3 separate regions of the Homo sapiens genome follow, and all the other regions are reported to be linked to region 2. The links are microRNA targets in miRTarBase. Many come from high-throughput screens and were not tested one by one. Region 2 holds a microRNA gene; each other region holds the end of a gene's coding sequence. Distances are from middle to middle.
Evidence for each region. Region 2 holds the annotated microRNA hsa-miR-205-5p (UCCUUCAUUCCACCGGAGUCUG, at 3,154-3,175, shown strand). A microRNA usually pairs through its seed, bases 2 to 8, with sites in the 3' UTR of a target mRNA and lowers its output. Matches are read on the target gene's strand: a 7mer-m8 pairs with bases 2 to 8, a 7mer-A1 pairs with bases 2 to 7 and ends in A, and an 8mer does both.

Region 1: miRTarBase lists TMEM201 as a target of hsa-miR-205-5p. The part of its 3' UTR that is shown has no 7-base or 8-base seed match.
Region 3: the mRNA of TCF20 is a reported target of hsa-miR-205-5p. The part of its 3' UTR that is shown has no 7-base or 8-base seed match.

What each region holds. Positions count from the first base shown.
Region 1 is chr1:9,612,796-9,617,855 of GRCh38, forward strand. It overlaps TMEM201 (transmembrane protein 201), which reads left to right. Exons shown (of 11, transcript NM_001130924.3): 11 at 191-2,082. The coding sequence ends at 288. LOC124903837 reads left to right here and starts at 1,869. Exons shown (of 2, transcript XM_047436734.1): 1 at 1,869-2,677. The coding sequence starts at 1,869. RefSeq lists enhancers at 2,630-3,174, 3,184-3,243.
Region 2 is chr1:209,429,013-209,434,081 of GRCh38, forward strand. MIR205 (microRNA 205) reads left to right here and starts at 3,121; the gene lies at 3,121-3,230. MIR205HG (MIR205 host gene) reads left to right here. Exons shown (of 4, transcript NR_145437.1): 1 at 1-76; 2 at 169-396; 3 at 1,413-1,464; 4 at 3,192-3,537. RefSeq lists enhancers at 3,962-4,559, 4,560-5,069.
Region 3 is chr22:42,164,218-42,169,277 of GRCh38, reverse strand. TCF20 (transcription factor 20) reads left to right here. Exons shown (of 6, transcript NM_001378418.1): 5 at 542-669. The coding sequence ends at 625. Among named protein-coding and RNA genes, the nearest start is that of CYP2D6, 36 kb to the right of the region's middle.

The DNA of each region.
Region 1 (5,060 bases), 200 Mb from region 2:
GGAGTGGGGGTCTTTCCTGCTAGGGAAGCCTTTGGCCAAGAGAAGAATTGGGGGTGAGCCTCACCAGTCTCAGAGAGTACCCTGGGCAGAGCCTTGAGCTCCCCACAAACTGCATGCTCTAGGGGGCTGCTCAGCTGCACAGCGAACCCACCCACCCAAACAATGTTCTGACCAGGTCTCTGCTTTGCAGGTCGTTTCGGCCCTTCCCTGGTCCGGGGCCTCCTGGCCGTGAGCTTGGCCGCCAACGCCCTGTTCACCTCGGTGTTTCTGTACCAGAGCCTGCGCTGACCCACCGTTGGAGCCCCTCGGAGGGGAGCAACCCGGTGCCTGCTGCTTCACCACTGCCGGCCTCAGGACCCTCCCTGGAGGGGCTGCCACCTCTGCCCTCATCTCCAGGGCCTTGACCTCACTGGACTGTGACTGTCCTCAGGACACCTGCCCCTCCTCACCTAACGGACTGCAGGGCTGAGCATGTGTCTGAGGTCACACTCTCTGCCCACTCACCTCCTTGGCTGACATCGGTTGTGTTTGGTGCTGACACTCTGATCCCGAAGCCAGGGAGCCCCAAGGGGCTGCATGACCCTGGGGTGCCCCACACAGTTCAGCCCTGCCTGGCAGGGACGCCAGTACTACTGTAACTGCAGCAGGAGCTGCCCGGCCTGCCTTCTGGCCCCACGCCCACAGGCGTAGTCACATCTTTGTACTGTACTCCCCTGTCTCACCTGGGGCAACCTCAGAGCCCCACTAAGCTGAAGGCCCCCTGGGGGAGGGGGAAGCATGGTCCTTATCATCTGCCCTATCTTGCCCCTTCCTGTGGAGTGGGCAGAAGGGCTCCCGGGATCCTCAGAGCTCCCAGGTCTGAGCAGCCAAAGGCCCAGCTGGGCCTCCAGGACCAGCGCGAGCCCCTGCCCCACCCTCCCCTGCCCCATGTGCCCTGCTTTGTGACCTCTGTTGACCTTCCTGGAAGCAGCCCCATTACCCTGAGAATGCGGAGCGCCCTGGCCCACCTCGCCCTGTGTTTCCAGGCCTGCACGTCTGGTCCTTCAGCTGCACATGGAACTGCAGGGCAGGCTGGCGGGGGGCCTTCAGATCTCAGATGAGACTGCACCCCTTCGACCACCCTACTGGGCACCTGCCTCCAGCCCCTGAGAACTCCATCTTCCCCTAGTTCTGCCCAGGAGCCCCTGAGAACCCCATCTTCCCCTGGTTCTCTTGCCCACTCCCCTGCTGGGGCTCCTTCCTGGCACTGAGGAGGGGCGCTCCCAATGCTGTGAGGCAGCGGGGAGGGACCGTGCACCCGTGGCTATCAGAGCCCCTCCGCTGTCCCACCCTGGGCCTGGGACACGGGCCTGGGGCAGTGTGTGTCTGCTGGTCATGTGCTGGTGCCAGTTGGGGAGGAATCAGCTGTCTCGGTGGATTCTGAGACTCACTGTGGGGCGGGAAGAAGGGTCTTCACTCTGCCATTCAGGGATAAAGTTTAATTTTATTTTTCTACACATTTTGCCAGGTCAGGCATTTTGCTAGTAAGCAGGATGCCCCCAACTCTCCCTGCCATGGAGGATTCTTTTTTTTAAGCTTTGGGTGCTTTTTTAATACTTTTTTTTTTAATGTGGGGAAGGAGCTTGCTCTGACGTCACCCTCCTCTCCCCTGACTCCTGTCCTGAGAGCTGTGGATGCCGCCTCCTGCCCTGCCTACCCCTGAAACGTGGGGAATGGGGGCCCCAGGACAGCATCAGGACTTTTGAGTCCAGCTGCCAGCAATGGTTCCAACTCGGAGGCAGCGCCTCTTGGTCCCCATTTCTGTATAGCAGGCGTGTGTGTGTGTGTCGAGGTTTTTTATTTTTTGCTTAATCAAACTCCATTCCCAAATGCACTCCATCTCTGGCTCTGAGGGCGCTCCCTCCTCTCAGCCGGGCAGCCTGGCCTCTCCTGCCCAGACCTGCGGTCCCAGCATCCCCCAGAGCCAGGGAACAGGCCCAGCGGGAGGGGGTTTTATGTTTTGTTTCAAACAGAAAACACAACCTTATTTTTCTTTACAAAAGCAAAAAAGGAAACCAAAAAAGATACAGCCTTTGAATGATGCCTGCTGGCTGTCTGTATTCGTTTGCTTGGGCAGCTCGGGCCTTCCAGGTAGGGCAGGGTCCCTGCTAAGGGGGCTCTCATCCACTTTCTCTTTCCTCTTCAACGGGGGGTTCTGGAGTGGGGGGCTCGGGTTGGGGTGGCCACAGTGTGACCAGACAGTGTCCCTGGAGGGGCTTAGGGATTTGGACAGGAGACTCGCTGCCTGGCTGAGCCTGGGCCGGAAGGACACCCCAGAGTTTGCTGCGCAGAGAAGGGTGTCCAGGCAGGAAATGCTCAGCTCAGCTCTTCAGAAAAGCCTGAGCCCACCAGCCATCCCTGACCGTCCTTGCCCCTGGCTGCAGGGACCACGGTCAGGTTGTGAAAAAGACCTCGTCTTCCTCAGAGAGGGCTTAGAGCTGCTGCACGGCTCCATGCTGAGGCGGCGGGGATGGGGAATGGCCAGGGTGTCACAGCACAAGCTCTGGGGTCACCTTTCTGGTGACTGGGATCTGCATTTCTGTTGGCTTCAGTTTGACACGGGAGTAACAGGACGGCCATCCGGGGCTGATATGGGGACCCTTAAGCCACAGCACAACGCAGAGGGAGCTCTACCAAGGTGGGCTGTCATTCTGGCCCAGTGCCCAGCGGGCAGGAGGACCACAGCCAGTGAGCAGGGGGACCGGCTCCCAGGGGCCGGCAGGACCAACCTGAACCAGACCCTGAGGGCAGATGAGGGTGCAGGGCTGGGACGGCTTCCCATCAGGAGCTTCCTGCAGCGGGAGCCACAAACGCCTCTGAGCTCACTGACCTCGGGTCCTCAAGATGTTGGGAACATCATGTTTAAACCTGAGGCTCAGGCTTCCAGCAGCCCATTCAGCTCCTACCCCGGCCTGGCGAGGAGAGGCCAAGTGAGGGCAGCAGAGAGCCAAGCGCCCTCAGCTGTGAGGTTCTCCCCAACTTGGGAGCAACAGTAGTAACGCCATCTATGGTTTTCTTATCAAAAGGTAACACATTTATGTAGAAAACCTAGAAATAGAAGTGAGCAAAAAAGAAAATGCCTCATAATCCTGGCATTAAGATATTGGCATCTCTTCTTTGTGGTGGTTTTGTTTGAGACAGGGTCTCGCTGTCCCCCAGGCTGGAGTGCAGTGATGCAATCATAGCTCACTGCAGCCTCAACCTCAGGGGCTCAAACATTCCTCCTGCCTCAGCCCTCCCAGTAGCTGGGAATACAGGTGCACACCACCACACGCAGCTAATTTTTGTTGTATTTTTTGTAGAGAAGAGGTTTCACCATGTTGCCCAGGCTGGTTTCGAACTCCTGAGCTCAAGCAATCCACCCACCTCAGCCTCCCAAAGTCCTGGGATTATAGGTATGAGCCACTGTGCCTGGCCAGAATCTTCAGTAGAATAATTCACCTCTGAAGGATTATCCCAAGGGCCCACTGCAGTAGCTCATGCCTGTAATCCCAGCACTTTGAGAGGCCAAGGCAGGAGGATTTCTTGAGCCCAGGAGTTCAACAGCAGCCTGGGTAATACAGTGTAAACTCGTCTCTGCAAAAACAAGAAAATTAGCTGGGGCCGGGCACAGTGGCTCACACCTGTAATCCCAGCACTTTGGGAGGCCGAGGCGGGTGGATCATGAGGTCAGGAGATCGAGACCATCCTGGCTAACAGGGTGAAACCGCGTCTCTACTAAAAATACAAAAAATTAGCTGGGCGTGGTGGCGGGCGCCTGTAGTCCCAGCTACTCGGGAGGCTGAGGCAGGAGAATGGCGTGAACCTGGGAGGCGGAGCTTGCAGTGAGCCGAGATGGCGCCACTGCACTCCAGCCTGGGCGACAGAGCGAGACTCCGTCTCAAAAAAAAAAAAAAAAAGCTGGGTGTGGTGGCACATGCCTGTCCTCCCAGCTACTCGGGAAGCTGAGGTGGGAGGATTGCTTGAGTCCCTGGGAGGTCATGGCTGCAGTGAGCTGTGATTGCACCACTGCCCAGCCTGAGTGACAAGAGCAAGACCCTCTCTCTAAAAAATAAGATGCTAAAGCTTTTTGTGTGTTGCATTACAGAAAGGTACAGAAAAATTAGTTTCGTACTTGAGCTGAGTTTTGCTGTAGAAACCTGCCCCTGGTTCCCAGGCATCTTCCACCATGCAGTTGAAAGCTCATCAGAAGATCAGGAAGGAATTTGGAGAGGTGAAGAGAGGCAGGCAGGGTGCCCGGCACCACCCCTCTCTAGCAGAGAAGCTCAGTTTTCTTAGGCAGGGTTTCAACTGAGAAGAATTTACAGGTTACAGTAAAGAAATCATCTTGGGCCGGGTGCGGTGGCTCACGCCTGTAATCCCAGCACTTTGGGAGGCCGAGGTGGGTGGATCACCAGAGGTCGGGAATTTGAGACCAGCCTGACCAACATGGAGAAACCCCATCTCTACTAAAAAAAATAATAATAATAATACAAAATTAGCCAGGCGTGCTGGAGCATGCCTGTAGTCCCAGCTACTTGGGAGGCTGAGGCAGGAGAATCTCTTGAACCCGGGAGGCGGAGGTTGCAGTGAGCCAAGATCGCACCATTGCACTCCAGCCTGGGCTACAAGAGCGAAACTCCGCCTCTAAATAAATAAATAAATAAATAAATAAATAAGCCTTATTGGTTTTGGTAGATTTTAGCCAGCTTCTTTACTGCAAACTGTTTTATCAGTAAGGTCTTTATGACCTGTGTCTTGTGCTAACCCACTTTTTTCTGTTTTATATCAGAAAAGTCTACCGATTTTTCTTTTTTTAAGTTCAAAAACTACTATAGCATACCACCCACCATACCAACCTACTAGCCGTGTGACGCTGGACCCCTCTGTGCAACAGGAAAGGGCCTAGGTGACCCCCTGTTTCTTCTGAGGGACGATCAGAGGCAGGAACTCTCCCCCCACCCCCACCATAGGTGTCTTCTGTGGGGTCCAGAGTGGCTCTACCACTGCAAAATGCTTTCTGTGATTTCAACTGAGGATAT
Region 2 (5,069 bases):
GACAGGGTCTCACTTTGTCGCCCGGGCAGGAGTGCAGTGGCTCAATCTTGGGCTCACTGCAGCCTCAACCTCCCAGGTTCAAGCGATTCTCCTGCCTCAGCCCCTCAAGTAGCTGGGACTACAAGCGCACACCACCACGCCTGACTAATTTTTTGTATTTTTTTGTAGAGGCGGGGTTTCACCATGTTGCCCAGACTGGTCTTGAACTCCTGAGCTTAAGCAATCCACCTGCCTCGGCCTCCCAAAGTGTTGGGATCACAGGCGTGAGCCACCGCATCCGGCCTCATGTTCTTTTTCATTAAAGAGAGAAATCAACTATTCAGGACCGGCCCCCACCTTTCCTCAGGAGTCATTTCTGTTCCGCACAGGCCTGCTGAACTGGGTGCTTTATATAGGGTAAGTGTTTCTCATTTTTTGTTCCCTGTCCTCAAGCCTTAGGGGCAAAAGAAACATCCAAGATTTGAAATTTCTTTTCTTCTTCTCATCTGCATGGCTGTAGCCATCTCTCTGTTCTGCATTATCTTATGACAAAAAAAAAAAATTCTTATTTTGAAGCAAACTCAAAGCTAGGTCCTGATGTCTCAAGGCACAGGTACTCGTACTTAAAGGTGAGTCTGAAATCTGTGGATTTGGGGAACTTTGGAAAAACAAAGATGAGTGGCTAGATCAGGGGGCTCATTGGGCAGGAAGAGGAGACTGGAAAATGCCATATTCACTGCAAGTCAATTATCAACTTCCTCCAAGGCTAAAATAGCTGAACCTGCTGCATTTTAAACCAATCCTCAGCCACTTTGGTGTTTTCTCAAGGATTTCCAGGGATCCCAGGCAGTAAATTCTGCTGATAATAGGAATTGGTGTGATAAGGTGGGTGCTGAGCAGTTTAAGCACCAAGATTGTAGCTCTGTCTGGTTTTGTGGAGATTTACTCAACTAGAAGAACAGAGATTTGGCTGGTTTTTCAGTCCTGGGGTGCAGGGTGCACCTGTACTGGAAAATTTAGGACGTGGTTTCATTCTTTGAGTCTCATGTTCAAGTTGGTTTTAATGTTATGAAGACACTTGGGACGTAATCCTGAGGGCAGCTGGGGGGAAGAAAGTGGTCACTGGATGGACTTACCCTGTAGCGAGCCCATGCATGGTTTGTTCTCTGATCGTGCATGTGCTTGGCTCTAGACCCATGTAACCATGGTGAAGGCCACTGGGGGATTCAGTTGGCAAAGGCATAGTGGGCAGAAGAATCTTGAACAAGGAGTCCAGAGCAGGTCAAGTCTCCTGATACAGGTTGTGACTCATGGTTTTTTGTCTCTGCCTGTAGCAGCTACAGGTCTGTAAAGCAAGGGGAGAGTGATAAGGAAAGAACTCACCTTTCTGGGGCTCTCTGACATTAATGCCACCTCCCATTTGCTTTTTGCAGACACTGTCATCTCTCAAGTACCCATCTTGGAGGGTACGGACCCCACATGAGGGTGAGGCTCTCTGCACACTCCAGAGTGAGGACTTTAATAATCTAGTGGACTGTACATGTTGGGAGGGGAAGAGCGGGGTGCCGAGGGTCTGGAGGGAGAAGAATTGACTGCCCCTTTTGCTCTTGGAGTTAAGCAGAAATCTAAAGAGAAGGCAAAGAATCTTGCCTTCCTGGCATCATTTCCTCCTACCATCCCAGGCCATCATTTATTTATTACAGCCAACAGACTGGCCTCTTTCTTCCCTTTGACTGGGAATGGGTCAAAGGCGGTGCAGGAGGAGGATCTGGTCCAGATAATTCACAAGCAGGGTGCATTTTCCTCTCATTATTGAGAACTGTGAGTGTTTATCAAGAAGGCAGAGCAGGAGAAGATGAACCAGTCTTCTTCCCCTCACTACCCAGATCTCTGCCTGCCAACAAGCCCCGTGTTCACCCTGGCAAAGAGTCTTTACATTCAGACCAAGGAGAGTGTGACTCCTTCTCAGCACTAGCTAGAAACCTCAAGCCCTTGCTTAAGGGCCTTTTTCAGAGAGACCCAATGCCCAGAAGGCTAGATGCGTGGGGAGGAGCCACATACGAGAAACTGCCTCCCTGCTTCGGGTCAGAACAAGCCCCAGGAAGAAAGTATTTCAAACAACAAGGTGCATCTGCCCCAACCCATCCAGCCTGCATGTTGGTGCTGAGAACAGCCTTTTATGGGGCTTGCACTGAGCCATGGGCATGTCTGAACACAACAAGGAAGAGGCCAGAGCAGCAACAGCACGCAAAGGGTTGATGGGCATTTCTTTTAAGACAGAGCAGAAAACTCTTAGATACTTTGCGTCCTTCCTATTTGACTCAGTCTATGAAAGCCAGGTTAGCTTGCTTTCTTCCTCCCTAAATCCTCCATCCTCATGACCAACAAAGAAATAGTTGAATCATTTTCCAGGCACATCTTGGGGAGGATGTGGGGCCATTGGAGGCTGTCCTTCCTAGATAAGTCTTTAGGAGTGAGAACAAGGAGTCTTACCCTCCTCTGTCCACCCACCCCCATGAATGGGCCTGGCTCCAGCCAGGAGTTGTGGTTTTTCCTGAGCTCCTCACCTATCTCTTCTGGATTTCACATTGGCAAACGGGGTTGCAAAGTGCTCTTCGTGCTCTTTGGACAGTGCCTTGTGGAGAGGAATGCCCATGCCCCTGCATTCCAAGGCCTTGGTAAGCAAGCTCAGAGTAGCTGGATTTTTCTAAAGCAATTGCAGAACACCTGCTTTTTCTTTGTTTCCTCTAGAAAGGACCAACCACACCGAGCTCAGTTATGGCACACACAGTGGGACCTAGACAAAGGGAGAGGGTGACCGACATCCCAACTAGGTAAACACAGAGGAGGTTCCACATGGACTTATCTGGGTGGCTGTTTTGAAAACGAGAAACAGTCAAGAGTCCCTGGCCCCACAGACCCACCTCCCCAACTCAGCACTGTCTGTCTGTGCAGCAGGTGCAAGGACGTGTTGAACTAGCTCTCTGCAGCCTCCTTGGAGGATGTGATCCTATGGGAGGGGTAGGAGTATTCAGGTCCTTGACATCTCCCAAATGTGTGATTCCGGGATGCCAAAGGCCTTTGGCCAGGTAATGCAGTGTCTACAGGCTGAGGTTGACATGCATCCCCACCCTCTGAGAAAAAGATCCTCAGACAATCCATGTGCTTCTCTTGTCCTTCATTCCACCGGAGTCTGTCTCATACCCAACCAGATTTCAGTGGAGTGAAGTTCAGGAGGCATGGAGCTGACAACCATGAGGCCTCGGCAGCCACCGCCACCACCGCCGCCGCCACCACCGTAGCAGCAGCAGCAGCAGCAGCAGCAGCAGCAGCAGCAGCAAGAGTAACTCTGACTTAGGAATAGAGACAGCCAGAGAGAAATGTGATCAATGAAGGAGACATCTGGAGTGTGCGTGCTTCTTCAGAGGGACGGGTGATGGGCAGATTGGAAAAAGCACCGCAGATGGGAACCTTAATCTTTCTTTTCTAAAATTGATGCTATGAAAATTTGCGTTTTCTGTAACTTGTAAAAACTAAAAGTTGCTTGTCTACTGAAAAGCCTCTCTGCCTCTATGTTTTATACCATCGGATGCCAACTCCCGGCCTTCTAAGCCACCTCCCCTTTAGGCTAAAACTGAGACATGAACTTGAAAAATTGACACTGGCTTCCTCTCTCTTTAGGGTCCCCAGGCAGGTGGCTGGGACACTATTTGCAATCAGCAAGGAACCCTGCTGCCCTTAGACTCCCCACAGAGCAAGCAGAACTTGCAGAATGGGGTAAAAACACTCTATTAAAGATTTTTTAAACCTATTTATATTGTAATAAAGTAAATGTAAATAAAATTTAAGTGAAGGCAGATTGCAGATATTTCCGATGCTATACAAGATATATCTCATAGTATGGGTGTAGATTCTGCAAAGGTTAATGCAGTTAAACATATTTGACACATAAAAATGTCAGATCCAACATTAATCATTCACCAATTGTAATTGCCTTTCTATGGGTCTCTTCTCCCCAAGACATAGCTTAAAACACCAGGCTCGGTAGAAATCTGGGAGGAAAAAAGCAAATAATACCTCTCAGCTGTCAGGGTCTATGATACGCTTTGATAGATTTAGCACTGATTTCATTCTCTTTACAATTCAGTGTGATTGGGTGTGCGTGTGTGTGTGTGTGTGTGTGTGTGTGTGTGTGTGTGTTACTCCATGTTTCTCCTTTTTAAGGAAGGAGAAGGTGTGGAACAAGAGAAAGTTCCTAAGTCTGAAGGAAGTCCAACCCAGTTATGAAGGGAATGCCATCCACAAGCCTTTTTTATAATTGGCCCCTGCCTCAGGTAAAGGGGTCTCCTTTAAGGAGCCAGTCTGGCTAAATTGGCAGATTCTGAACAAAGCCTGGCCCTGACAAGTCTTCAGAAAAACCGGTTTTCACCTCCAGAATGTGCCCCAGGCAGCAAAATACAATAGCTCTCCTTGGCTGAGTGGTGTTTTTCTTAGGAGCTCACTCTAAAGGAGATTCCAGCTTTGCAGATGGATACCGATCACTTGAATGGCCAAGCCCTGCCCCCCAGCCAGTGACCTCTGAGGGGGATAGGTCTCTTCACCTTCCCCCAACCCTTCCCTGGTTTTTGACCCCTGAGGGTCCCAGATTGCCAGCAGGAACTAAAAGGAATAAACCTTTCTCCAAAATATTTTTCTGTGTCAAGTTAATACAGATTTAAAACCTAGTTTCTGTCACCCCCACCCCTTCATTCCAAGACCCACAGGCAACAAAAGGATGAAGAAGCCAAGCCACAGGCATTTTTTAAAAACATGTTTACTCATAAAAATTGCGTAGCAAATCCAACTGTGGGGTGCTGTTTGTCCAGCAAACTCCTAGTTAACCAGCAAACACCTCCCATTCAAGGTCTGAAACAAGCCCTGAGATCAGAACAAAAAGCACACGACAGACACGATGTGGCACTTTTATTTGCAGCTTGGTTTGAGCCCTATGACCTGGAATCTTTTTATAGGAGATAAGTGCTTGTGTATTTATGTGCCACCTGGCCCAGGTGGAGGCAGGAACCAAAATGGCCAACAATGGTGACCAGAGG
Region 3 (5,060 bases), not on the chromosome of region 2:
ATGGTCTGTTTGTGGATACCACATATGTGTGTGGGGAGGGTGTATATGGAGAAGGAGCCCCAAGAAAGGATCAGAACGGAGACCACTGCCACCTGATGTTTCCTGCAGGGGCTGCACTGTGTCTCTGGCTGAGGTCACACTGACACCTGGTGGTCACTGGTCACTCGCAGTCTTAAATCTAGTAGGGCCGAAAGTACTAGAAGGAGGTTGTCCAGAGAGGTCTGCCCTCAAAATGCTCCTGAAAGATGCTTGCTTATGCTTTTCTTTAAAAATTATTTCTGGGGAAGGGCGGGGAGTGGTCACAGGATCTTATATTCTCTTTATTTTTACTTAATTTGCATGTTATTTTTAGAACTCCCCTTTTTAAGGGTCACATTTTGCCTCAGAAAACCCTGTCTGAATGTCTCCTGTTTGTCGGTCAGGACTGACTCTGCCTTTTCTTTCCTTTTCCATGTGCCACTCCTGTCCTCCCTTTGCCCTCCCTGATTTCTGCACTGTCCTCTCCCACCTGTCTGTCTCCTCTTGGTTTTGCCCGTGTCAGCCTCCCCTTCCGTGCCCTCTCCCCCCCTTGCAGAACAAGACCGCGAAAGGCAGCCTCAGCACAGAGCAGTCGGAGCGGGGGTGAGGGGGGCAGTGTGCTCGTGGGAATGGAAAGGACAGCAAGCACAGGTGAGTCGGGGCCACCGGGCTCCCTGCATCCTGCCCGGCTCCCAGCAGGCGTCGTTGCCTCTGCCCTCCTGCTCGCTCTATGCTCTGCCACCAGCATTTCATCCTGTGGATGACAACGCCAGGTGGATGCAGTGTTCTTCCATTGGTTACTTAGCTCCCCAGATTATCTGTGGAAAGGAGTGGGGGCTTCTAAACTGTCCACTGCCAATGGGGTGCAGGGTGACTGTTCCTGAAGGCAGCCCTTCAGGGCACAGCTGGCCAGGGGTGGCCTTGTGAGTGGACACAACAGGCTTTTAGGTCTCTTTCTTGGGCAGGGCATCTCTTGCCAGTAGCCCCTGCTCTTTCCCCCGTCTCAGAAAGGGTTCCAGTCAAAGGTCTCTTCTTTTTAATTTACTACATTTCTGTAAAGCTTATGGTGTGTTTTCCTTTGAAAACAACAGAACTCTTGGGTTTTGTTATTAGAAATCTTTTTTTTCCAGTATTATGAAGGATTCCTTTTTGCAGAAGTACAAAGGAAAGAAAAATCCTCAAAGATTTAGTAGACTCTAGCATCTGATTTAATTTTACTCTTAAAAATCTCGAGGCTGGGCATGGTGGCTCATACCTGTAATGCCAGCACTTTGGGAGGCTGAGGCAGAAGGATCGCCTAAGCCCAGGAGTTCAAGACCAGCCTGGGCAACAGTGAGACCCTGTGTCTACATTAAAAAAAAAAAAAAAAATTAGCCGTGCGTGGTGGTACATGCCTTTAGTCCCATCTACTCAGGAGGCTGAGCTGGGAGGATCACTTGATCAAACCTGGAGGTTGAGGCTGCAGTGAGCCATGATCGTGCCGCTACATTCCAGCCTGGGCCACAGTGAGACCCTGTCTCAAAAAAAGAAAAAAAATTCTTGTGATTGAGTTGTGCTTGCTGTGAGTTTGTGTGGGATTATTGTGGTCACGGCCCTCTTGGCAGGCATCTGTGAAAACAGGATGATAGGACTTGGGGTCTCTAGAAGCTGCAGGCCTCTGAGCTCCATGCTGCTCCTTCACCCTCCCTGCGTCACTGAGGCATGAAGGGAAATAGGTTGTAAAGAAAAGAAAAACCAAAATGTACCTTGTGGCACTTGCTGCTACAGGATGGGGCAGGAGGACTAGTTGTCTCAGAAATATTCATTGAGGGGTCATTTCTCTCAAATGGGAGGACTTCTGTGTCGACCTCAGGAGTTTGACTCACACAGCTACGCTAGACGTGTCCCTTCCGGCACCACCATGTGCCTGACCACCTTCTGGAACGTGCCCTCCTCCTTGTTACCACTACTAATTTCCGGAGAAGGCCCCTCGGCTGCCACGCCATTTGAGAAGTCAAGTGGGGGCTGCTGAGTGCCTTCTTGATAGAGCGTTGAGTGTGGTGCCTTTCTCTTTCCTCTTCCGGGGAGTAGGGCTGGCAGTGAAGGGATCAGAGCAAAGTGGGGAGGTGGGTGGAAGCCATTCCATGTGTTCCTGGGTCAGAGGAACCAGATGAGCAAATGAAGCCTCTTGGACTTGGAGTACATTGCCACCATCAGCGAGTGGCTGCTGGTTTTCCAGAACCTGCTGGGCAGCACTGCCTGCTCCTTTTCCTGGGATTAGCCCTTAGGACAAGGCAGCCATTGCATTGCGTGGTTTTGAAAGGACTGTTTCTGTTGGCCCTCCTGCATGTCCCTACGCTCCTGAGGGTGTCACTGTGCCTTCCCATTGTCACCCCTGTGCCAGCACAGGCCAAGATGGTTAGAGTCAAGTTCTGTAGGGGACCACGATGCGTATTCCTGGAATGTGTCCTAGAAGACCTGGTTAAGGAAAGAGCTTAAGTGTTTTTTGTTTTTGTCCTGGAATTGCATCTGTGTTTGAGAAAAAGAAAGTTCAGGCCCTGGGCCTGGTGGACAAATCTCCTGGGGATTTTGTTCATCTGTTCCTCTCTAGTCATTCTTGGGCCTTCCTTCCTAGCTGTCAGGGCCCTTGACTCTTTTTTTTTTTTTTTTTGGAGACGGATTCTCACTTTGTCGCCCAGGCTGGAGTACAGGGGCACGATCTCGGCTCACTGCAACCTCCATCTCTGGGGTTCAGGCGATTCTCCCGCCTCAGCCCTCCCGAGTAGCTGGGACTACAGGTGTGCACCACCACGCCCAGCTAATTTTTGTATTTTTTGTAGAGATGGGGTTTCACCATGTTGCCCAGGCTGGCCTTGAACTCCTGACATCAAGTGATCTTCCCGCCTTGACCTCTCAAAGTGCCGGGATTACAGGCGTGAGCCACGGCGCCCGGCCAACTCTTGAACAGAACAATGAGCTTCATCCTTCTGGGTTGAAGCACAGTGATGAAGTGGCCTCACCCATTGAAGAGAGTCGTCTCAGGTCCATTGAGGTTGAACCATTCCATTCAGCTCTTGGAGGGAGAGGATGGACTCACTGCATCCAGTCCTGTCCATCTGAAATGTTTTTTATGTGCTGTTCCCACAAGGCATATAGCTTTTCCTGGTTTCCCAGTTCAGCAGTGACATTGAGGGTGGTCACCGTCCTTCATTTGTGGTAGAAGCCCTGGTGACTGGGGATAGAATCACACCTCTGACTAAAGGAGGACTCATCTTGGGCCCCATGCTGGGGACAGAGAGCCACCATTATTGGGTGCCCTGACAAGGCAGGGAACAGACAGCGAATGTGCGTGTGTGTCTGCCTCCTAGTGCGCCATGTTCTGACAGAGTGATATGATAGGTGCTGTGTGACTAAGATCAGACTACTCCATGTCTCTGTACTTCGGTTTCTTCTGTAAAAACAGGAATAGCAGTGCCAACCTTTTGAGATTCCATTGGGAAATGTCTCTAAGTGCCAGCACAGCACACTGGCTCTCAGCCCGTTGATCTGCCATGCCTAGCTGTGGGTTTCTCTTGGGAGTTGGAGGGGTCAAGGCAGCAGATTGGACCCTGCAGCTGTCTCTTATAGCAAAAAATACCCAAGGCTTGGGGTTAAAAGATGCCGCCCCTGCCTCCCAGCCTGTGAGGTATCTGGTACCTGACCCTCGCCAGGAGTGCGGAGGGGAAAAGTCCTTCTGCAGGCCCGTGGTTGCCCACTGTCTCTTTGTGCCAAGGGGGTTGCCTTGCTGGCTTGTGTCATTGGTTGGCAGGGCTTTTGACAGTGGAGTCCCTATACCCAGCTCTTCCTCCTGTCGTGAATTAAACAAGGAGGCCCCAGCTTGCCCTAACAGGCCCTGTGGTCCAGCACATGGGAAGCATAACCTTGATCAGGGCTAATGCTGCATCCTGGATGCTATGTACCCTGCACAGAACAGCCATGGATGGACGCTGAGCAAGGCAGGGAACGGGGCGTGGCCCCCCTGCCCCTGGAGCTGGACATCACACAGTCCATTTGTGTGTATGCATGAATGTCACATTCTAGAGTTCCCCTTTCCCCAAACTGGTCCAGAGGCAGTCCAGGGTTACACCTCCAGAGGAGAGCCTGAGTCTGTCCACTTTCCTTCCCCACCAGCCCCAGCCCAGGCATTGTGGCTGCTATAGTGCCCGCCTCCCTGCCACTGCTCAGCAGCCAAGTGCAATCTTCATTAGGCCTCCCTCCAGTCCTGTCCCTTCTCTACGTCAGAGATTCTTGTCATCTTCCACACAAAGCCCAGACATCTCACCTTGCCTTCCAGAGCCCTATGGAAGTCTCAGGTGACTCTCCAGGCCCCTGGCTGCCTCCAGCTCCTCAGGGACCAGGCTTCCTTCCTCTGGGCTTCTGCACACACAGTTCCTTGTGCTGGAAACACTTTGGCTCCCCATCTTCATGTTGAAAACAGGCTCCCATCTCCTGGGTCTCAGCTTAAATCCTACTTCCTCAGAGAAGCCTTTCCCTTTCTAAATCCTTGTCTCCATTGCCCCCCTCCTCGCTTGCAGCCATCCTAGCATCACCACAATTTCAGATCATTTACTTGTTTACTACCTGTCTCTCCACTAGACTGTAAGCTCCATTAGGGCAGGGACCACGTCTGTCTTTGCACCATCAAAGCCTAGCCCAGAGCGGGGCATGTAACTATGCTAGTGCCAAGTGAGTCTGTGTTAAAGAAATGAGTGCATCCCAGGCCGGGCACAGTGGCTAACGCCTATAATCCCAGCACTTTGGGAGGCGGGCAGATCACGAGGTCAGGAGATCGAGACCATCCTGGCTAACAATACAAAAATACAAAAAATTAAAACACTAAAATACTAAAAATACAAAAAATTAGCCGGGCGTGGTGGTGGGCGCCTGTAGTCCCAGCTACTCGGGAGACTGAGGCAGGAGAATGGCATGAACCCGGGACGTGGAGCTTGCAGTGAGCTGAGATCGTGCCACTGCACTCCAGCCTGGACGACAGAGTGAGACTCCATCTCAAAAAAAAAAAAAAA